Homo sapiens: one gene and its partner. The protein of the gene in region 1 purifies or fractionates together with the protein of each later gene. This does not show direct contact. Each region holds a gene or a part of one and is shown on either strand. Other genes may lie near its edges. The genes, in order: BCKDHB and DBT.

Region 1 (11,883 bases):
TCTCATGGCTAGAGTTCCAAGGTAAAAAGCTATTGGATCTTCATTTGTGTTTGTGTATACATGTCTAGATGTGTTTATTTGTATGTACACTTACTGTTATATGTTGTGTCTATCAGATTGGCTTATAATTAAAGGAGCGCTCATAAATTAAGTAAATAAGTCTAAGCAATTTTCAAGTTCACATGACTTAAGTATAACTTTACTAAACAAGCTGGCACTGGAGTACTTACTGGTCATGTGCCTAGAGTGAATTTCTTCATTGCACAGTATGTATGGTGATACTGGTGGAATTAAGGATATTGAGTTGTGTATCAGGAATAAAATATTCATTATGTGGTTTTCTGGGGGGCTCTGGGTAACACTGTAGCCCCCCGGGTAGACTAAGTAGGAAAAATTTAGAGATGGTTTCCTGTCTATTTGTTTTTGCTTCTAATTTTCATTTGTTTGCTATTTGTTCTCCTTTGGGTTTTACTTGTGTATGCATATATATAAAACCATAGACATTTTTTAGTTTCTAGTGGAAGGCTTTTATTTGGTTCTGAGAATAGTTATTTTGTTTCCTGCGAATTTCCAACAAGTCATCATGTGTTCTATTTATTTGGAATTCCTAGGCTACCTATTTCAGGCCTGCAGGAATTGATGGAGCACACCAGCCACTTGGAATTTGGTTGATTTGGCTTGCCTCTGATAATCTGCACAACAAAGACTCTTGCTTCAAATGCAAGAAAAACGAGAATTGGATAAAGGACTATATTAAGCCCCTGCCAGTCCCCTGCCAAAAATGCGAGAGCATCAGTTACAACCCCTGGCACTGGAAGATTGACTGGCCCTGCTCCCACCAAGGGGTTCAATAAGGCAAAACTCTAGCAGTGCAAAAGAGAAATTAGATGAAGACTGAAGCGACCCAGGGTCTTCCTCACTGCCCCTGTTCAGGAACATCGTAATTACTACTGAGGAGCCCCCAGGTAACTCTGGACGTCATGGGCACCCAAATTCAGTTTCTTTTCAATACAAATTCAGTTTCTTTCCTTACTACTTATGTAGGAAAACTTTCCTCCCAGTCCACGACCATTATGGGAATGGAAGGAAAGCCACAAGTAAGATCCTTTATTCCTCCTTTGATTTGTCAAATTGAGAAACAAATCTTCCAACAGTAATTTCTAGTAGTATCAAGCTGCCCAGGCCCCCTGTTAAAAAGAGATATTATGGTTAAAATAGGGGCACTACTACAATTTAAGCATCATCTGGTGAAATTGCTAATAGTCAAAAATACAGACACTGTCCCAGACCACATTAATAAACAGGTTAACACACTGGCATGGTATACTGGAAAACCAAGGAAGGCTAAAACAGCAGTGCCAGCCAAAATACAGCTTAAAGACCCCTAGCTATTTATTTTCCCAATCAAAAACAATACCCAATTAAGCTGGAAGCAAGGAAAGGCCAAGCATCCACAGCTAAGGTATTACTTACCCCTGGGCTCTTAAGACCCACTGGTAGGTCCACCCATTGGTGGCAGATCCATATACCCTCCTGGCTCAGGTGCCAAGGGATGCTAAATGGTTCTCAGTCCTAGACCTAGAAGATGCTTCATTTTCCATTCCTCTGGCCCCAGAATCCCAATACCTTTTTGCCTTTGAATGGGAAAATCCTAATGCCAGAGAAAAACAATAATACACTTGGACAGTTCTCCCTCAGGGTTTTCAGGATAGCCCCCATTGCTTTGCCTGGGCCTTAGAGAGGAATCTGAGGGGTCTGCAATTAATTAAGAAATGGGAGTATACTCCAGTATATGGATGACCTCCTTGTGTATAGCCAAATCCTGGATGAAAAAACTACAAAAAGTTTGAATTTCCTGGCAGATAGGGGATACCAAGTGTCCAAAACGAAGGTTCAGATTACCCTCCGACAGGTCCATGATCACATCCTTAGCAGCTAGCAGAGAGTATGGCATCCAGGAGAAAATAAAAATGCAGAGAATGACTGAATAAACAAACTCACATCCATACAATGCCCAAGAATCAGGGGCATGGAGAAGCCAGGATGAACTGTTCTCAGAGAACAACACAGTGTAATAAAGGGAGCAAACATGCCAGCATAAAGCAGCATAAGTGTCACCAACTCAGAGTCTAATCTGACTACCTCCTTTTAAGCAGTACCTTTTATATGTCAAAACAACCAAAATAAAAGAGTGAAAAGTATTTGCAGGACATGTGAAAAGCAGAAAGTTAGTATGTTCTTCAATATTTTTTAACAGACAAAATCTTAGTATATAAGTAGTGTGGGAGGCTTTGGAGTAAGACACATCAGGATTCAAACTCTGGCTCTGCTACTTACCAGACTTGGGTAAGTACTAACATTTCTGAGCCTCAATTTTCTCATCTTTAAAATGAGCATAATATTGTCTAGTTCACAAGGTTACTGTGAGGATTATAAACTGATGTCTAACACAACACCTGGAAAAGAGCAGCTATGCAATAATCGTAGATAGTATTGATAGGAAAAATACTGAGTATACTTTTAAAAATATGTAAATACATCTAATATTCAATTCTTAAGTAAAAATAAATCAATTTAACAAAAACATGGGAAAATATTCCTCAACAGAAATGAAACAAAAATTAAAACAAAGTACAGTTAGCACAAAATATCCAAGAGTGTACATGAACACACCTAATTTTAGCATTAATATCCAATACTCACACTATTATACATATTATGGGGTATAAATGGGTATAAATTTGAACTATGCACTTAAAATCCATTAAAGTATTCAGGACTCTATCCTAAAGAAATAATCTCAGATACATAAAACCCATATGCATGAAATGCTTGTATCTGCATTATTTACAAAATTGCAAAATTTTAACAACAAAAACATAATGGTAATTATTTAAAGGTTCCACTTATTGACTGAATGCTTGATTCTCAGTTGTCAAACAGTGTTAAGTATATTATAGACATTGTTTTATGTAGCCCTCACAACAACCTTCTGAAGTAGGTATTATTATTAACCCCTTACATATAAAGAAACTGAGGCTTACAGAGGATAAGTAGTAACTCCAAAGTTATAGACAGCCAAGGCAAGATCAAACTTAGGACAATCTGATTCCGGGGTCAAGAATTTAACTTGTAAAAGACTTGTAGCATCTCTACTCCATGGAACAGTTCTTCTAAATTCTCAAGAAGGTTATAAAAACTCCAGTGAATTGTAGGATAATTCTTCCGACTAAATAAGTTGTATTTGTATTAAAACTAAAAGTATGGAAAATACGAAACTAAAAGGAAATACCTGTAAGGATACACCCAAAATGTTAGCAATATTTACTGCAGTGGGTGGTGATTTTTGTTTTTTGGTTTTTTGGGGTTTTTTTGAGACAGAGTCTTGCTCTGTCACCAGGCTGGAGTGCAGTGGCACGATATCAGCTCACTGCAACCTCTGCCTCCCAGGTTCAAGCGATTCTCCTCCCTCAGCCTCCCGAGTAGCTGGGACTACAGGCATGCGCTGCCACGCCCAGCTAATTTTTGTATTTTTGGTAGAGACCGGGTTTCACCATGTTGGCCAGGATGGTCTCGATCTCTTGACCTGGTGATCCGCCTGCCTCCGCCTCCCAAAGTGCTGGGATTACAGACGTGAGCCACTGCGCCCGGCAGATTTTTTTTTTTTTTTTTTACTTTTTATCCATTATCCAAATTATCTGTTAATATGTTTGTATTATTTTTAAAATAAGAACAAGTTTATATATATCATGATATATATCATGATAACATGATATCATTTTACTTAGATTTTAGTAAGTTTACAACTATGGAAAGTTGGACTATTTCTCAAGTATTAGACCAAAATTTCTTTGCTTTGAAGACAGAATTTGCTTTGAAGACAGAATTGAGGGCTCATCTTGGTGGTGGAAAAAAAAAAAAAAACACCTACTATTAACCTTTATGGTACCTACTGTTTCACAATACTGGGACGCCCTCCAAGTAAATTATATCTACACGCATCTTAGTACATTGTTTAGAATGGAAGCTCTGGAATCTGATCAATTAGATTCCAAAGCTGGAGCTTTGGAGCTACCACTAACTTACCTGTGTAATCTTGGTCAAACTGTCTCAAGACTCCATTAACCTAACTGCAAAATGGGAATAAAAACTTTACTAACCTTTTAAGGTTGTCCTAACCCTTAAATGAGATGATGAAACATACACACAGCACCTGACCCTGGTAAGCACTCAATAACTGTTCATTCTTATCCACAAGACACACTTCCAAAAATGTCAGCTCTAGCATGCACATGAGAAGTTATTAGACAAGGAAGCAATACATGTTTCCCTACAGTTTCCTGATATTCTGAAGAGAGACACTGGATCTGATATTCTGATGAGAGACATTACATGAAACTTGCAGAAATGGTAAAAATCATGCAACAGTCATACTATGAGGAGTTTGCTACATGCCCTTCCTATGGCTTCCTCCTCTCATCCCCTTCACCTCCTTGGCTAAGTGGCAGCATAGCCCAGGACAAGCTCAGTACTAAGCTCAAGTAGAAAGTCTGAATTCTTTCACATCTCTAGGAAGGACCTGTTCTGTGACCTTGGGAAAATCAGTTCAATTACTCAGAATTCTGTAGGTAAGAAGAAACCAAGGGACATATATACATATATGCATATATATATGCATATATATGTGTGCATATATATATATGCATATATATATATATGCGCACATATATATGCATATATATGCGCGTATATATATCCACACATATATATATGTGTGTGGATATATACACACACACACACACACACACATACACACAATTTCTGTATGTAAGAAGAAACCAAGGGACTGAGTAACTGAATTGATTTTATATACATATATATATTTTATATATAATATATATAATATACATTTAAAATATATATATATAAACATATATATATATCTTTTAAATGCCTCTACCTAAGCTAGTGGCCCAGTCCTGGCCAGGCTGGAACAACACCTAAGGCCTGGGTTGAGAAAGCAAGGACGGAGGACAGAGAAAAGGGAGGCGTTCCCTGGGCACCACCCCTCCACCCTCAGGCTCTTCCAGGTGGCAGTATGCCCTCTCACCCATCTCAAAGTTGCGGGGGAGGGGGGACTGCGTCTCGAGGGCTGAACAGTCACAAAAATAGAGCAAGAAGTGAACCACAGTTAGACCCTGAGGCAAGGAGGTTCCAGAGAGTCAGGAAGTTAATAAGCTGGGATGCAAGGATTGCAGCCTGCCGGCCCCTGCCCCTCGCGGGCGCCTGCGAGCCTGGGAGTCCGGGCTGCAGCGGGACCGAGTGGGCAGTCCCAGGGCTCACCGTACTCCCGGGGCTCCGGATCTGGCTGGAAAGTAAAATGAGCCACCTGCCGCCTCTGGGCCGCATCCTCGACAGTCGCGGCGGGGTGCAAAAAGCCCCGCGCCAGCCCCGCGCCAGGAAGCCGACGCCAGTGCCCCTCAGCCCCTGCCGCCCTGAGCCTGAGTAGCCAGCCGGCAGCCGCCGCTACAACCGCCATCCCCGCTCACCACCGGGATTCTCAGGCTATGCAGCCGCACGCCGCCTGCGGGGAGGGCGGAGCACCCGAGGAGGCTTCCACATTGGTCGGGCCAGAGGGGCGGTCCCATGAAACAGACCAATCGGAACTGGAAATTTAGGGGCGGGGAAGGCGACGTGACGAGCTGGTCGGCTTCTGCTCCTTGTGCGCATGCGGAAGAGGGGAAGTGTGGGCTAGAGGTGGCGCCAATGAAATAGTTTCTGGGGTGGAGCCTCCCCGAGGTCGGCCGTGCGGTCCTCGGGTGAGGACCCGAGTTTGCAAAGTTCCACACAGTGCCTGGAGGCGATCTTTTCCGGTGTCATTTACAGTGCCATTTCCAATGGTTTAACATCCATACTTTTTTTTAAATGTAACCCTTTTTTATCCTGTCCTGTCTCTATTATTGTGTGAGAGGTGAAGAGAGCTACTGATTGGCATTGGTTATTGTTTTGACTTTCGAAAAACTGCTGTAGTCACTGCTCAAAGCTTTCACTCCTTATTCACACCCTCCTTAAAATGCTTAATAAGCATATATAGATTTTTATTGATTTCGTTTTTCCACATTTAAATGAGAGATGAAAGAGGTAAACTTAGATTTCATCCTGCAAATCCACTGAATAGGAATTCAGATACATTTTGCCCAGAAGTAGCAAAAATTACCTGATTGGCTTAGTCTAAGTAGCTTAGAAACCTGGAGAATTTGAGTCACTAATTTTCATTTATAGTAATCAACTATGTAAATTTGTTTTAATCTAAGTGTTTACCAGGATACATTCTCTGTCCATGAATTTACTAAAAAAAAAAAAAAGCACATAAAACATGAAATATCATAAAATCAAATATGACAAGAGACAACAGAGACAGTGTGTCCATCAGATGAAAATGGGAGGGTGGGGAAGGATGGTCCCAAAACAGAATTTGAAGAAGAAAGTGGGAGTGGAGGAAAAGAACATTCCTCTTCCATTATGCCTTGCCTCTTAACCCATCTTTGGTTTTGCACAGGGGCAAGGGAGGAGAGGGTAGAAATGGGGCAAAAGGAGAGGCAGAGAAATGTGTTTTCTGACTGAGATTAAGAAACAGCAATTGAAAACTGCCAAAGGGAGAACCAGAATTATGTCTCCATTTTTCCTACCCCCACACTAAGTCCAAAAATTCAACATTGGGGAAATTTTTTATCTTGGCTTTTGTTAGTGTTCATTTCTGCTGTTTTAATAGTGTGGGGTAGAGTGTTTTGCATGTGCATGAAGGGTATTTTTGTTTTAATGAAGGAAGGGGTAACAAAATGAAATTACATTTACATAGTCAAATTTGGGTTTAAACTAAGGAGAGTAAAGAACAAGGATAAAAATGAATAGAGCTTTTTTTCTATTTGTTGATAGTTTAGGGAGCTGGGGGTACTGAGATTATTTAGGTCGGGGAGAAAAAGAGAAAAATAATAACTGATGAGAATTTTATTGAACCTCTGCTACGTACAACCCAATGACAAGCCACCATTGAGACAAATAAGATCAAGGCATAGTTTTACTTCTAAAATGTCCAAGGTGGTAGAGAAAAGAGACAGATTAGGCAACTACAATCCAATGTGATAGGAGTCCTAGAATAGTGCAAACAAAGTGAAACACAAAAAGAGCAATAAACTCTTATTTGAAAGTCAAGTGTTTCCAGATATAACTCTGAGCTAGACCTAAAAGATGACTAGAAGTTACCAGGCAGACTAGGGAGAAAATGGCATTCCAAACTAAGAAGAAACCTGTATAAAGGCTGATAGGCATGAAGAGCACAGTGCATTCCAGGAAGAGAAAATAGCTTGGTGCTTCTAGATTCAGGGTGTAGGGAATGATACAGGGTTAACAGAAAAAGTAGGAAAAACAGATTAAAGGGAGATTTTGAAGGTCTAAGAGGTTTGAACTTTCAACTACATGCAGCCAGGAAAAACAAACAGAGCACCTGCCAGATTCACCTGTTTTGCAAACTGATTTTTTAAATTTTCCCCATCTCTACCACACCATTTGCCTGGTAACCATGAAAATGTCTATGTTATTACAGTGGGACTTTCCTCCATTCCCCTTGCCCTGGCCACATTTACTCAATTTGGGAAACTGTCCTTTTCTGGGAATTTTGGAAGTGTAGTTTAGAAAGAAAGATCAGATTATCTTTAAATGCCACTAGGAACTGCAAAAAATGGGAGTTTTCAGTAATTTCGTGAACCAGAAAAGGTGAAGAGTGTGATTATATTTGAGTTCCTGATTCCATTTATTCCCAAGGCCTAACTGCTTTCTGGTCCTGGGGTTCTATGAGACATCACCGTATCCTTAAAATGTATTCCCCTCTTTGTTTAAGCTATTTCCAATTGCAGAACCCATGACTATGGAGTTGGAATACAAAGCAAAGTTGCTCTTCACCCTTCAGAATGACTCTTGCATCACTTGCTCTCACTGAGCTTCACTACCTGTGCAACTTGTACCTGTTTAGTCTCAGCTTGCTTTTAGACGACCATTTTATATAGCAAGATGATAGTTTTGCAGTATTACATCCTGGCATCTGCCTCCTTTCAAACTCAAACAGAGGTATCATGGAGGCAGAAAAAAAAGAAATCAAATTATTGCTTTTGAATTTTAAAATAGATTTTAAACTTGATAGCAGAGACAATAATTTGAGAGAAAAGTTTGAATTCTACAGACTGGTTTCTGAGTATTAAACCTCAAAAACCTGAATGAGTTAGGAAACAAAGCTTAGGGCTAAAAGAAAAGATTGTAAATCACATACCAGTATAAGAGATGGTTTGTCTCACCTTCCATGGAGGTACAGCTATAGATTAGAAAGACCTGTAGGTATCCTCCTTTGTAGATGAACCTAGAAAAGTATCACTAAATCCTCAGGCTACCCAGCATGTCATGGCATTTGAAACAGCAGGATGCTTCTCCCATGTGGCCAAGAGAGATGCAGCTATGGCAACAAGATCCAGGGAACTTGAGGAGACCCAGCAATCAGAATGATAAGGACTTGTGTCTAGAATATACTGATTGAAAGTCTTAAACGCAACAATAGAAAAGAAAAATTACCCAATTAGAAAATGGGCAAAGAATTCTCATTCATTGATTGTGGCAATGCAAAATGGTATAGCCACTTTGCAACACAGTTTAGTTTTTTATAAAACTAACATATTCTCACCATGAAATCCAGCAGTAGTGCTGCTTGGTATTTGCCCAAATAAGCTAAAAATGTATGTCCACATTAAAACCTGTGCAGAATATTTACAGCAGCTTTATTCATAATTGCCCAAACTTGGAAGCAACCAAATAAACTTAATGGAATATTATTCAGCACTAAAAAGAAATATTAAGCTGGGTGTGGTGGCTCATGCCTGTAATCCCAGCACTTTGGGAGGCCGAGGCGGGCGGATCACCTGAGGTCAGGAATTTGAGACTAGCCTGGTCAACATGGTGAAACCCCGTCTCTACTAAAAATACAAAAATTAGCTGGGCGTGGTGGTGTGCACCTGTAGTCCCAGCTATTCAGGAGGCTGAGGCAGGAGAATCGCTTGAACCCAGAAGGCAGAGGTTGCAGTGGGCCCAGATCACGCAACTGTGCTCCAGCCTGGGCAACAGAGTGAGACTCTCAAAAAAAAGAAAAAAAAGAAAAAAAAATATTTAACCATCAGAAGACATGGAAGAAGTTTAAATTTATATGACTAAGTGAAAGAAGCCAATCTAAAAAGGCTACATACTATATGAATCCATCTATATGACATTCTGGAAAAGGCAAAATTATGGAGAGAATAAAAGAGATGAGGGGTTGCAAGGGTTGGGAGCAGGAAGGGATAAATGGAAAATCACAGAGGATTCTTAGGGTAGGAAAAATATTCTGTATGATATTATAATGGTGGACATATAAATATGTCATTATACATTCGTCCAAATGCATAGAACGTACACCACCAAGAGTGAACCCTAATGTAAACTATGGGCTTTGGTTGACAACTGTGTGTTAATGTAGGTTCCTTGATGGTGACAAATGTGCCACTGCAGTGCAAATGTTGATGATTAAGGAAGCTCTGTATTTGGGGAAAGCATATGGACATTCTCTGTACCCTCCTCTCAAATTTTTTGTGAACCTAACACTGCTCTAAAAAACATAGCCTATTTAAAGAAATGGACAAAGGATTTGAATGACATTTCTCCAAAGAAGATATGCAAGTGGCCAATGAACATAAGAAAAGATTCTCAACATCAATAGTCATTAAAGAAATACAAATCAAAACCACAATGAGATACCACTTCATATCCACTAGGATGATTAAAATAAAAAGAAATCTATAACATGTGTTGGTGAGGCTGTATAGCAACTGGAACCATTGTGCATCACTGGTGGGACTGTAAAATGATGCAGCTGCTATGGAAAACAGTTCCGCAAAATGTTAAACACAGTTATCTTTTTAATTTTGTTCTTCTATTTCTCTTCCTTTTTTGTTTTTTTAAACATAATTATCTTATGACCCAGCAATTCCACTCCTAAGTATATAACAAAGAAAAATGAAAAGGTGTATTCACCAAAGCTAGTACACAAATATTCGTAGCTGCACTATTCATAATAGCAAAAAAGTGGAAACAATCCAAATACCCATGAAATGATGAATGGTTAAACAAAACTGATATATCTGTAAATAGAATATTATCTGTCAATAAAGAGTAATTAAGTAGTGTTACATGGATGAACTTTGAAAACATTACGCTAAGTGAAAGAAGCCAGTTTAAAATACTATATATTATACAATTACATTTATAAAAAGTCCAGAATAGACAAATCAACAGAGACAGGAGGTAGGGAATGACTGCTAATGGATATAAAGTTTGTTTATTTATTTATTTATTTATTTATTTATTTATTTATTTTGAGACGGAGTCTCGCTCTGTCGCCCAGGCTGGAGTGCAGTGGCGGGATCTCGGCTCACTGCAAGCTCCGCCTCCCGGGTTCACGCCATTCTCCTGCCTCAGCCTCCCAAGTAGCTGGGACTACAGGCGCCCGCCACTACGCCCGGCTAATTTTTTGTATTTTTAGTAGAGACGGGGTTTCACCGTTTTAGCCGGGATGGTCTCGATCTCCTGACCTCGTGATCCGCCCGCCTCCGCCTCCCAAAGTGCTGGGATTACAGGCGTGAGCCACCGCGCCCGGCCTAAAGTTTATTTTTTGAGTGATGAAAATGTTCTAAAATTAAGTAATGTTGATGGTTGCACAACTTTGCTCTATGCTAAAAACCAGTGAATTGTACATTAAAAGGATGAATTTCATGATATGTAAATTATATATCAGTAGCACTATTATTTAAAAATTAAATTACAGAAAAATAAAGTTATATTTGCCCATCTAAATATGTTGATGAAGAGATTCATTCCCCCTACAGCATGTTTAACATCCAGTGTATTAGTTCACAGACTCTGTTCATATGAAATCGGTTTCAACTAAGGACTCGGGATAATGGAAAAGCTCCCTGATTTTCCTTACTTCACTGAATTACTAAGTGGAATGATCCTGTTGGAATCAAAAGAAAGTCCAGAATATACTCAAAGCCAATGTATTTGTTTCCTAGGGATGCTGTCACAAAGCAGCACAAACTGGTTGCAGGAACGTATTGTCTGCGATTCTGATCAAGTCCAAGATCAAGGTGTCAGTGGGACCATGCGCCCTCTGAAACCTGTAGGAAAATTCTTCTTTTCCCTTTTGTTGGTTCTCTGGAATTCTTTGTCATCCCTTGGCTTGCAGTTGCATAAATCCAGTATGTGCGTTTGTTACCACATGCCGTCTCCATATCTTTGCACAGCTATCGTTTTATAAGGACACCAGTCATATTGGATTAGAAGCCCACACTGCTCCAATCTAACCTCATCTTAACTTAATCAATTACATCTGCCATGACCCTATTTCCAAATAAGCTTAAATTCTGAGGGCCAGGGGTTAGGTACTGGGTTTGGGGGTAGGGGAGTGTCAAGCTCAACATATCTTTCAGGGGACAGGGGCATAACAGTCAGAGACTTGGTTGCAGGAACAGAAGCTAACTGGATGAATGCTTTTGATAAACTATGGATGCTTTTGATAAACTATTAGGAGGATGTTTACATGGTTAAAGAGTTTTTATAAAGTGTTTTGTGGATTTCTTCAAATATGACCTAAAGTCATTTGGAGAAGGGTTAAAAATCTAGAGATATTTGGTCTAGATAAGATTTTAAAAGTGATGTATTAACTCTCCCTCAAAGTTTGATGGGCTCCCTTGTAGAGGGGTTAAATTTACTATTTAGCTCCGGAGGGAAGAATAAGAAACAGGAAGAAGC
Region 2 (11,442 bases), on another chromosome or scaffold:
CCAGGCTGGAGTGCAGTGGCACAATCAGCTCATGATAACTTCAAGTTCCTGGGCTCAAGTGATCCTCCCACCTCAGCTAGGACTAGCAGCTGACTACAAGTCCATACCACCACACCCAAGTAATTAAAAAAAATTTTTTATAGAGGTGAGGTCTCACTTTTCTGTGGCCCAGGCTGGTCTTGAACTCCTGGCCTCAAGCAAGCCTCCTGCCTCAGCTTCCCAAAGTGCTGGGATTACAGGTGTGAGCCACTCTGCCCAGCACAGAAGTATGTGATTTATATATTTATATACTTTTCAAAGCCATTTGAAAAGAAGGCAGATTTAAGAAAAATGTAAGATGTAAAATTAATAGGTTTTGATAATCAGTTTGATGTGAGACTAGAGTCAGGATGACTCCAGGTTTCTAGCTTTCCTTCCTCCCTCCCTCCCTCAAGATGACTCTAGGTTTCCTTCCTTCCTTCCCTCCTTCCTTCTTTCCCTCCTTCCTCCCTCGCTTCCTTCCTTCCCTCCTTCCTTCCTTCCCTCCTTCCTCCCTCGCTTCCTTTCCTCCCTTCCTTCCCTCACTTCCTTTCCTCCCTTCCTTTCCTCCCTTCCTTTCCTTGATTCTTCCCTCCCTCCTGATGGCTCTAGGTTTCTAGCTTCCCTCCCCTCCCCTCCCCATCCCTTCCCTTCCCGTCCTGTCTCATCACGTCCCTTCCAGTCCCGTCCCTTCCTCCTCTTCCTCCTCCTCCTTCTCTTCTTCTTTCTTTTATTTCCCCTCCCCTCCCCTTCCTTCCTTCTCCTTCTCCTCCTCCTTCTTCTCTTTTCTTCTCTTCTCTTCTTTTCTTTTCTTCTTAGACATGGCCTAACTCTGTTGCCCAGGCTGGAGGGCAGTGGCATGATCACAGCTCACTGCAGCCTCAAACTCTGGGGCTCAGGTGATCCTCCTACCTCAGACTCCTGAGTGGCTGGGACTACAGGTGTGGACCACCATGCTCAGCTGACTTTTTAAAATTTTTTGTAGAGGCAGGGTCTCATATCAATGGTTAAGCTAGGCTAGTCTAGCTTAATGACTTACTGAGTTAGGAAATATCAGAAGGAAAAGAGATTTGTAGAAGACTGAGTTTTGGGGACATTGGAATGGAGTTGGTGAGAGATGTGAGCTACAGCTACAGATTCACAAGTCTTCAATGAGGTGAGAGTTGAAGGCATGTGTGTAGATGTAGTACAAGAAGAGAGGGCAAAGGATGGGATCCTATGAAAAACTGAAGTTTAAAAGAGAAGCAGAAGAAGAGAAACCTTAATAAGTATCCAGAGAAAGCAGTATTAGTATATGTAAGCAGTATTAGTATATCTAAGCAGTATTAGAGTATGTAAGTACTTTATATATTCTAATTTATTTAATCCACCCAAGTATAAGGATCTTTGTTTTGTGTACTGATATATCCCAAGCACCTAGAGCAGTGCCTTGGAACACAGGTGATCAATAAATATTAATTGTTGAATGAATGAATTCTCACAAGAATACAATTAGCTAAATACTATGATTACTCCCATTTCCCAGATGGTGAAACTTGCTTAAAGTTACACTGCTAGTAATTTGTAGACCAGGAATCCAAGTAGCCTGGAACTGGTGTATCCAGCAACCCAAAGTTCCTAAGTGTTTACAGACTGGACCAGGAAGTTGAAGTATTTACTTGAATGACCTCTATTTTCTCTGGGAAGTAACAAAAAAAGATCAACTTTAAAAAATGGAAATTTTTGTAAAAGTAGTGAAGGTAAAGTTTACATGTCTTAGGCTATAGTGGAGGATGACATAGAAAAAACATGGAAGATGGCTGGGAACAGTGGCTCACACCTGTAATCCCATCACTTTGAGAGGTGAGACCCTGTCTCAAAAAAAAAAAAGAAAGCAAAAGAAAAGGCATGGAAGGCCGGTGCAGGGCTCATGCCTGTAATCCCAGCCCTTCGGGAGGCAGAGGCAGGAGGATCTCTTGAATCCAGGAGTTTTAGACCAGCCTGGGCACTGTGACAACATCCTGATAAATAAATAAATTAGCCAGGTGTAGTGATGCACACCTGTAGTCCCAGCTACTCAGGAGGTTGAGGCAGGAGGATCATTTGAGCCCATGAGTTTGAGGTTACAGTGAGCTATGATTGTGCCACTGCACTCCAGCCTGAGCAACAGAGCTCAAAAAAAAAAAAAAAAAAAAAAAAAAAAAAAAAAGAGCATGGAAAGGCTGACTTGGGGTCTGCCTGGAATTCCCCCATTTTTCATTCCCAGCACAAACTAAGCTCCCATGTATCTGTCAAAAACTTAATAGTGTAACAAAAGTCTAGGGTTCTTTATCAGGGTTCTAAATAGAACATCAGGAAAAAAAACAGTTCTTGTGCCCTTGCCAAATCTAATACTTAATCCTTCAAGTTCTTTACAGAGGGTAGAAAAAGCTGGGGAAAAAGTAAGTAAATGGTGAAAGTCAGGGAACTTTCTATTTAGTACTAAATCAGGCTGGTTTCATCACACCATGTTCACTTGACAGATTAAGTGCTTCTTTCAACAAACAATACCACAATGTGTATGCCAACACAAAGACACCTCTATTAAGTCAACAATTTACCTTGACTGAGAAAGTCATATCAATGCTGACTATTGCACTTAGATGAGCCAGATGATAAATAGATGGCCCAACACAACCCATTCCCAATATTATAAAGACACAAGTGCTGGGCGAGATAAGTTAATGCCTGTAATCCCAGCTCTTTGAGAAGCTGAGGCAGAAGGATCACTTGAGCCCAGGAGTTCAGGTTATAGTGAGCTGTGATTACACCACTGCACTCCAATCTGGGCAACTGAGTGAGATCCTGTCTCTAAAAAAAAATTTTTTTTAAAAAGGGGTGCCAGTGTTAAGGAAAGTATGTAAAAGAGAGGGATGAGAAAAAAGAAAGTGAGAACTGGAAAAATGTGGGGAGATGGGAAGGGCCCGGCTAGAAATACAGAGTCAACTTTTTTTTGTTTAAAAAGTCTCAATCAACTACTAAAAAATATTACTGAATGAGGTACAAAACATTATTTTATACACGTTATTTTGAAATCATACTTACCAGCAGTTGTTTTCAGGAAGTGATGTGGATGACTATACTTGAATGAAGGATAACCAAAGAAACACACATAATTTGGCTTCAAAACATGAACATTACCACATGTTTGAAAATAGCGAACACAAATCTACAGATGAGAAAACAAAAAGTAAAAGCATTTATAAACAACCATACCGGCTTATCTCTAAGTATAAATTGAATTTCAATTCCATTCTAAAAGTAGAACCATTGTCACAATAGAAATATTATATCCTTAGATTTAGATTTGTTACATTTATGATCCTTACCCAAAATTCCTTCTGAAAGTAAAGACATTTTAACAGTGTATTCTGTATAAATACATCAGCTTATAGGTATGCTTAAGTCATTGGACTTCCTGAACTAAAACTACTAAAGAATTCTAAAGTAATAGTTAGCATCTAAAAACAATGAAAAACTTGTATAGTATGATACCCCAAAGTTTACTTATAGTAACTTATAGATGACTCTTTAGAATTAACTATTTTACATAGTACCTTAGTATAATATTATTTTAAAATCTCTTATAGAAATAAGTAGGCCCAAATGTATTCAACTCTATATATCAAAACCTAAGTGTCTGAAAGGTATTGTGTGTGTGTGTGTGTGTGTGTGTGTGTGTGTGTGTGTGTGTATTTGAGACATGGTCTCACTCTGTTGCCCAGGCTGGAGTGCAGTGGTGCGATCACAGTTCACTGAAGCCTTGACCTTCTAGGCTCAAGGGGTCCTCCTGCCTCAGCCTTCCAAGTATCTGGGACCACAGGCGCATGCTACCCCACCCAATTAATTTTGTTTATTATTTGTAGAGACAAGGTCTCAGTATGTTGCCCAGGCTGGACTTGAAGTCCTGAGCTCAAGCAATCCTCCCACCTCAGCCTCCCAAAGTGCTAGAATTACAGGTGCGAGCCACCATGCCAGGCCATAATATCTTATTTGGAAAGTTAATATTTCAATGCCATTAGGCCAGGCGCGGTGGCTCACGCCTGTAATCCCAGCACTTTGGGAGGCCAAGGTGGGCAGATCACGAGGTAGGGAGTTAAAGAGACCAGCCTGGCCGATATGGTGAAACCCTGTCTCTACTAACAATACAAAAGAATTAGCTGGGCTTGGTGGCATGCGCCTGTAGTCCCAGCTACTTGGGAGGCTGAGGCAGGAGAATCGCTTGAATGCGGGAGGCAGAGGTTGCAGTGAGCCGGGATCGAGCCACTGCACTCCAGCCTGGTGACAGAGCAAGACTCCATCTCAAAAAAAAAAAAATTTCAATGCTATTAATACTTAACTACATCATACTGTAAACATAAACTACAGAATTTATTTACTTATTTAATTTTAAAGCCCTGAGCTTACTTCTCTGCAGAAATTTCTAACCTTCTTAGTATAAGAATACTGATAAGTGAAACTTTTTCATGTATGTAACAGAGTCACTTTTACTTAAAAAAAAAAATCATGTACATTAGTGGTGATTAGCTCTTAACTTTTAAAGGCTATGTTATAATAAACATCATATAGTACAGTCATGTTTTAATACATATTTATAAACTAGAATTTTTGTTTTTTTCTGATAGCAAATATAAAAGTAAAAGTTTGGTTTACTGACAAGAACAATACATTTAAATTCTTATTTTTTTACTTTAAATTTCAAACTATTACTGATTTCTGAAGGCAAAGAAAAACTGAAGATCCCTTTCCTAAAACATAAATAATCTTAAATCATTCATCTTAACTTTAGAGATCACCCTAAATCGACTAGTCTTTATAATATCAACATTTTATTTTTACTAACATTAATATTCAGGAAATATAAAGCCTAACTAAAATAATTAAAATTGATAACTTAAAACCAGAAGACAATAAAAGAATTCTCTTTCCCAAACATTTCCATTTTGTTTGTCCTTGCTTTCTCCTTCAGCTCCCATAATCCTGACTCTTGGTCAACAATAAAATCAAAGGAGTGAATCAACCTCTGTTTCATCAGACATAAAACTTAGGGACAATAAAGGAAAGTTTTGAAGTATATAGATTCACCTTAATTTAAATAAAATTGTTCATATTTGTAAAACATTTGAAAGAAAATTAAACTACTAGAAGGTCTTACCTTCAACAACAACACAACTCGTATTGAACTATTCATGGGTCGGGGCAGCATAAACCACCACGCTTAACATTTATTGAGTGCCTCCCATGTGCTGAGTACTTTCTTTTCAGACAGGCCAGGCATGGTGGCTCTGGCCTGTAATCCCATCACTTTGGGAGGCTGAGGTGAGTGGATTGCTTGAGGTCAAGAGTTTGAGACCAGCCTGGTCAACATGACGAGACCCCCTCTCTACTAAAAATACAAAAATCAGCTGGACATGGTGGCACACGTAGTCCCAGCTACTTGGGAGGCTGAGGCACAAGAATCACTTGAACCTGGGAGGCGGAGGTTGCAATGAGCCAAGATCACACCACTGCACTTCAGCCTAGGTGACAGAGAGACCTTGTCTCCAAAAAAAAAAAAAAAAGAAAGAAAAAAAGAAAAATAGCCTTTTTAGACATCATCTTTTTTTCTTTTTTTTTTGAGATGGAGTTTCACTCTGTCACCCAGGCTGGAGTGCAGTGGCACGATCTCAGCTTACTGCAACCTCCGCCTCCCAGGTTCATGCGATTCTCGTGCCTCAGCCTCCCAAGTAGCTGGGACTACAGGCATGTGCCATCATGTCCAGCTAAACTTTTTTTGTGTGTATTTTAGTAGAGACGGGGTTTCATTATGTTGCCCAGGGTGCTCTCGACCTCCTCAGCTCAGGCAATCCGCCCACCTTGGCCTCTCAAAGTACTAGGATTACAGGCCATGAGCCATGGTGCCCGGCCCAGACATCATCTTTACATTTACAATTTCCCTGTGGAACATACACGTTAGCCCTCTTCAACACACGGGAAACTGATGGGAAAGGTGAAGTAATTTGTCCAAGGTCACACAGCAAATAAGTGGAACAATCGAGCTCTGAAGCTAAATAAATTTGATGTCAAAGACCCTAGAAATAGGAGAAATAATCCCTAATTTCAAAGAGTTTACAACGTATGTGAGAAAATAAACACACATACAAACACACTCAAGCATGGACATGCATGCTCTAACTTTTTGTAATAAGAGGCATAGGCTTCTTTAATATAGTCCATAGGTTTACGAAAAAAAAAAAAAAGAGACATAGGCAGTACGTGATAAAGGAGTTTAAGCAGGCCGGGCACAGTGGTTCATAGCTGTAATCTCATTGCACTCCAGCCTAGGCAACAAGAGCAAAATTCTATCTCAAAAAAAAAAAAAAAAAAAAAGGAGTTTAAGTAGAGGGGTCTGGTGGGCTTTTTTTTCACGTTAGTGTGACCTGGGAAGGCTTCTTGGAGGAAGATTTAAGCTGCACTGTGCATAATAAGCATACATAATAAAAGAGCAGAAGGGCACTTTTAAGGCAGAGGAAACAGCATAAATAAACTACAGCAGAAATTGACTTAGCATATCTGCTGGGACATTGAGCGGCTTGATTTGGCTTGACCAAAGGTATAAAAGAGAGCAATGGAAACAGCTCAAGGAGGAAATGGTTGATGACTATAATGTCAGTATAAGGAGTTTGAACTCATACATTATGGGTTATTGAAGAAAAAGGATTAGGAAATTAGTAGTGGTTTATTGAATAGATTATAACAGATAAAATCTGGAGAGAAAGGGAGAAGTCAAGAAACTATTACATACCAAAATTATCAAAAAAGGATTTTTTTAAAAAAATAACTATTACCGTATTCCTCTCTTATCTCCTTATGTGCAGTGGACACGTTCAAGATCCCCCGGTGGGTGCCTAAAACCATGGACAGTACTGAATCCTACATATTCTACATATACCGTGTTTTTCCTATATATACATACCTATGATAAAGTTTAATTTATAAATCAGACACAGTAAGACAGTAATAATAATAACTGATAATAAAATAGAAAAATTATAATAATATACTGTAATAAAGGTTTTGTGAATGTGGTCTCTCTCTCAAAATATCTTACTGTACTGTGCTCACCTATTTTCAGACTACAGTAGATCATGGCTAACTGAGACCACAGATAAGAAGGGGAGAGTACTGTATAGTATTTGAGACACAAAGCAACAGGCTCCTGACTGAGGTAATTAATAGTAGAAAAAGAAAAAAAGCAACAAAAGTACCATAGGCAGTATATGATTAATATAATAGTAATTGAATGGCTCTGAGGAGAAGGCTAAAAACACTGTGAAGTTGCTGAATAGATGGATTAACAGGCAACAGGAAAGAGGAGAAGAAATAATTTTTCAAGCTAGAATTCTAAATTTTTTTTCTAGAAACAGACTATTAGACTAGTAAATTATATTTTTTAATTTTCTTCAAAGACAGGGTTGGCTGGGTGCAGTGGCTCACACCTGTAATCCCATCTCAAATAATAATAATAATAATAAAATAAAGACAGGGTCTCACTTTTTTGCCCAGGATGGTCTTAAACTCCTGGGCTGAAGCAATCCTCCTGTCTCAGTCTCCCAGAATGCTAGGATTACAGGTGTGAGCCACCACACCCAGCTAGACTAGTAAATTAAGCATAAGGCTTTAAACCTCCAATTTTAAAAAGGCATGCTTATGGAATTATCAGTTTTATATATTTTATATTTGAAGCAATTCTAAATTCATCTATGAACAATACTAAAGACACCTAGTTCTATGGGGACCATCTGTACCAATTTGCCTGAGGTGACACCCAATTCACCTCTAGTGATTCAAGGCAATTATTAATAACACCATTTTCATTCTCAAATACATCCTGGTTGAACAACTATACGTGTAGTCTAAGTCTTAATGCAATTATTTGACTAAAATAGGTCTTTCCTTGATTTTAAAAATAATTCAGCCAGGTGCAGTGACTCATGCCTGTAATCCCAACATTTTGGGAGTCCAAAGCAGAAGGATCACTGGAGCCCAGGAGTTCAAGACCATACTGGGCAATGCATTGAGACTTTGTCTACTAAAAATCAAAATAATTAGTTGGCTGTGGTGGTGAATGCCTGTAGTCCCAGCTACTTGGGAGGCTGAGGAAGGAGGACCACTTGAGCCCAGGAGGTCAAGACTGCAGTGAGCCAAGATCATGCCACCACACTCCAGCCTGGGCAACAGAGCAAGAACTTGTCTCAAAAATAATAATAAATAAAATAAAAAATTAGGCCAGGTGCAGTGGCTCATGCCTGTAATCCCAGCACTTTGGGAGACTGAGGCAGGTGGATCACGAGGTCAAGAGATCAAGACCATCCTGGCCAACACAGCGAAACCCCGTCTCTATTAAAAATACAAAAATTAGCTGGGCATGGTGGCGCGTGCCTGCCCAGTTACTTGGGAGGCTGAGGCAGGAGAATCGCTTGAACCCGGGAGGCGGAGGTTGCAGTGAGCTGAGATTGCACCACTGCACTCCAGCCTGGTGACAGAGTGAGACGCCGTCTCAAAAAAAATAAAAATAAAAAATTAATAATTCAATATCACAACCAGGACAGAAGAACATAAAGGGAAATGAAACTGTTCACCAAAGTAGCGTATTAAGGAAATATTTAATAATAATTCAATAGGCAGCTGTTGAGCACTCCTAAAGTCAGACATTGTACTGGACTTGGAAATGCAAAGCTAAATAAGATGCAATATATAGTTCCTGAATTCAAATTGCTTACACTTTACTACAGGAAGACAGACACAACAGAAAAATTCCAAATGGCATGATTAATCAAGAGTCAAATGCATTATGTCCTAGGGAAATGTAAAACACAACATTATAAGGCTATTTTAATAATTTACTACGGGGGTAAGAACTGTTTTTGCTTACAACTTTTTAGAAGAGTTTACAAACCTGACTTTTTTTTTTACTGAGTCATTTAAAAAATATTTATGCACACCTACAATGTGCCAGGCACTTGGGATTATACAGAGAACAAAACAGATGCAATTTCTTCCCTTATAGAATGCACAGTACAGTGAAAGGTAAAGACAAGTAAACCGGTGATTATAACACGTGCTATAATGAAGGAAATAGAGTGTGTTAAGGGAACCTAGCTGGAGAAAGTTATGTTGAAGTAAGACCTGACGGATGAGTAGGTGTAACCCCGGGGATGAGGTATGTTGCAGATAAGGCCACAGTGGAGTAAGGCAAGAGTCTTTAAAGCAGAGGAAATACATGTGCAAAGGTCTGGAGTTGAGACAGAAAGCACAGTGTGTGTGCAAATAACTCAAGTTGTTCAACAGACTTCTAGTGTAGTTTAGTGTGGAATAAGGGTGGGGAAGTGTCAGAGTTGGGGTTGGGATGGGTAGGTTTTGGTAAGGAATGAGATCTAAGAGACTGGAAAGGTCCAGATCATAAATTGCCTCATAGTCATTTGAATTTTGGACATTTTGCTGAAGGCAGTTTTAAACAAGAAAATGATATTATCAAATGTCTCTTACTTTATAAGATCACTCTGGCTACACTATGGAGAATGGGTTGGAAAAACTACAAGACCACTGGAGGCATATAATCCAGTTAAGAAGGGCCAAGACACCTCCAGTTGAGGGCAGGGTGGAAAAATCATGACTAGATTTCTTCAGAGAGAATTACAGGCTCAAATCAAGAGAAACTGGGCCAGGGGCAGTGGCTTACGCCTGTAATCCCAGCACTTTGGGAGGCCAAGGCAGGAGGATCACCTGAGGTCAGGAATTCAAGACCAGCCTGGCCAACATGGCAAAACCCCGTCTCTACTAAAAATACAAAAATTAGCCAGGCATGGTGGTTCGCGCCTGTAGTGCCAGCTACTTGGGAGGCTGAGGCAGGAAAATCACTTGAACCCAGGAGGTGGAGGTTGCAGTAAGCCGAGATTGCACCACTGCACTCCAGCCTGGGCAACAGATCAAGACTCTTCTCAAAAAAAAAAAAAAAAAAAATTAAGAGAAACTGGTTTGAGGGTTCAGTTCTAGAGGCTGGAGAGTCTGACCTGCTTTGAAGCTTTACGGCAGACACTGTGAGAAGACTAAAGACAAGCTTTTCTGCTGGGCATGGTGGCTCATCCTGTAATCCCAGCACTTTGGGAGGCCAAGGCAGGCGGATCACTTGAGGTCAGGAGTTTGAGACCAGCCTGGCCATCATGGTGAAACCTCGTCTCTACTAAAAATACAAAAATTAGCTGGGCATGGTGGCGTGTGCCTGTAGTCCCAGATATTTGGGAGGCTGAGGCAAAAGAATCGCTTGAAACTGGGAGGCAGGGGTTGCAGTGAGCCAAGATCGCACCACTGTACTCCAGCCTGGGTGACAGAGAGAGACTCCATTTCAAAAAAAAAAAAAAAAAAGACAAGTTTTTCTAAGCTCCCTTGTGCTAGCCGGGGCCATGTAACACAGTTCTGGCCAGTGAGACTGGAACCTCCTCCTCTTCCACCTTCCTGCCTTCAACATAAAAGAAGAAGTCGTAGCAGCCCTCTTGTATACAGTAGGAAAAGGACAAATGAACTACTAGGGAAATGACGACATTGATAATCATAAGCCACTTAATGTGAGCTGACATCTAATTGGGGATGCTCTGTATGCATGGATACTTAATTTCCTATTTATTGGTTGGGTTTTTAATTGCAGCTGGAAAACATCACGTACATATGAAACTGGAGATTTCCAGGACAGTAGGATATATGGGTTTGGAGTAGACCTGGTTGGAAGACTGGGGAACTTTAGGACTCATCAGCATAGATGGTAACTAAAGCCAAAGAGTGGATGGGATAACCCAGAAAGTGGGAAAAGTGCAGAGGGCCAAAGTCAGAGCCCTTTAGAAAAAGCAATATTTAAAAGGCGGGAAGGGAAACAGGATATTGGGATGAAGTGGCCAAAGATGAAGAAAGAATAATATTGGGAAACTGGTGTCACAGAAAACAAGAATGGAAAGCTCTAGAAAGAAGAGAGACCAATATGTGTTAAGTGTTGCTGAGAAGAGCTCTCTTCTCCTGGTTATCTCTTACTTATCCTTCTTACATCTCAAGTCATACAGTATCCTCTGGGAACTCCTCTGACCCCCAAGTCCACCATAGGTGTCCACTCCTGTGTGTTCCTGTAGTTCTAGGCACTTGTCCCATCACAGTACCTCTCATGCTGGGTTGTAATTTCTATCTGTCTCCCTCTCCTTTGTCCTCCACCACAAGGTTGTAATCTCTTGAGAAGGAAGATATGATGTCTATTTCATATTTGTATCTCCAGTGCCTAACACAGCACTGGTACATAGCAGGCTCTTGAAAGTTTTTGTAAGATCGGGGTCACCAAGGCAGGAGCATCTAGGGAAAGGGAGAAGAGGCAGGAAGAAGAAACAC

The links.
Region 2: the proteins of BCKDHB (region 1) and DBT purify together in Homo sapiens (affinity purification with mass spectrometry; 2 studies listed by BioGRID and IntAct, with this or other methods). This does not show direct contact.

The regions. Positions count from the first base shown.
Region 1 is NC_000006.12:80,100,350-80,112,232, reverse strand, and holds the start of BCKDHB (2-oxoisovalerate dehydrogenase subunit beta, mitochondrial isoform 1 precursor), read right to left. Parts: upstream 5,563-11,883; 5' UTR 5,540-5,562; coding exon 5,344-5,539; intron 1-5,343. UniProt on the Homo sapiens protein: Together with BCKDHA forms the heterotetrameric E1 subunit of the mitochondrial branched-chain alpha-ketoacid dehydrogenase (BCKD) complex.
Region 2 is NC_000001.11:100,237,680-100,249,121, forward strand, and holds part of DBT (lipoamide acyltransferase component of branched-chain alpha-keto acid dehydrogenase complex, mitochondrial isoform 1 precursor), read right to left. Parts: intron 11,407-11,442; exon of another isoform or gene 11,220-11,406; intron 6,924-11,219; exon of another isoform or gene 6,864-6,923; intron 3,206-6,863; coding exon 3,082-3,205; intron 1-3,081. UniProt on the Homo sapiens protein: The branched-chain alpha-keto dehydrogenase complex catalyzes the overall conversion of alpha-keto acids to acyl-CoA and CO(2).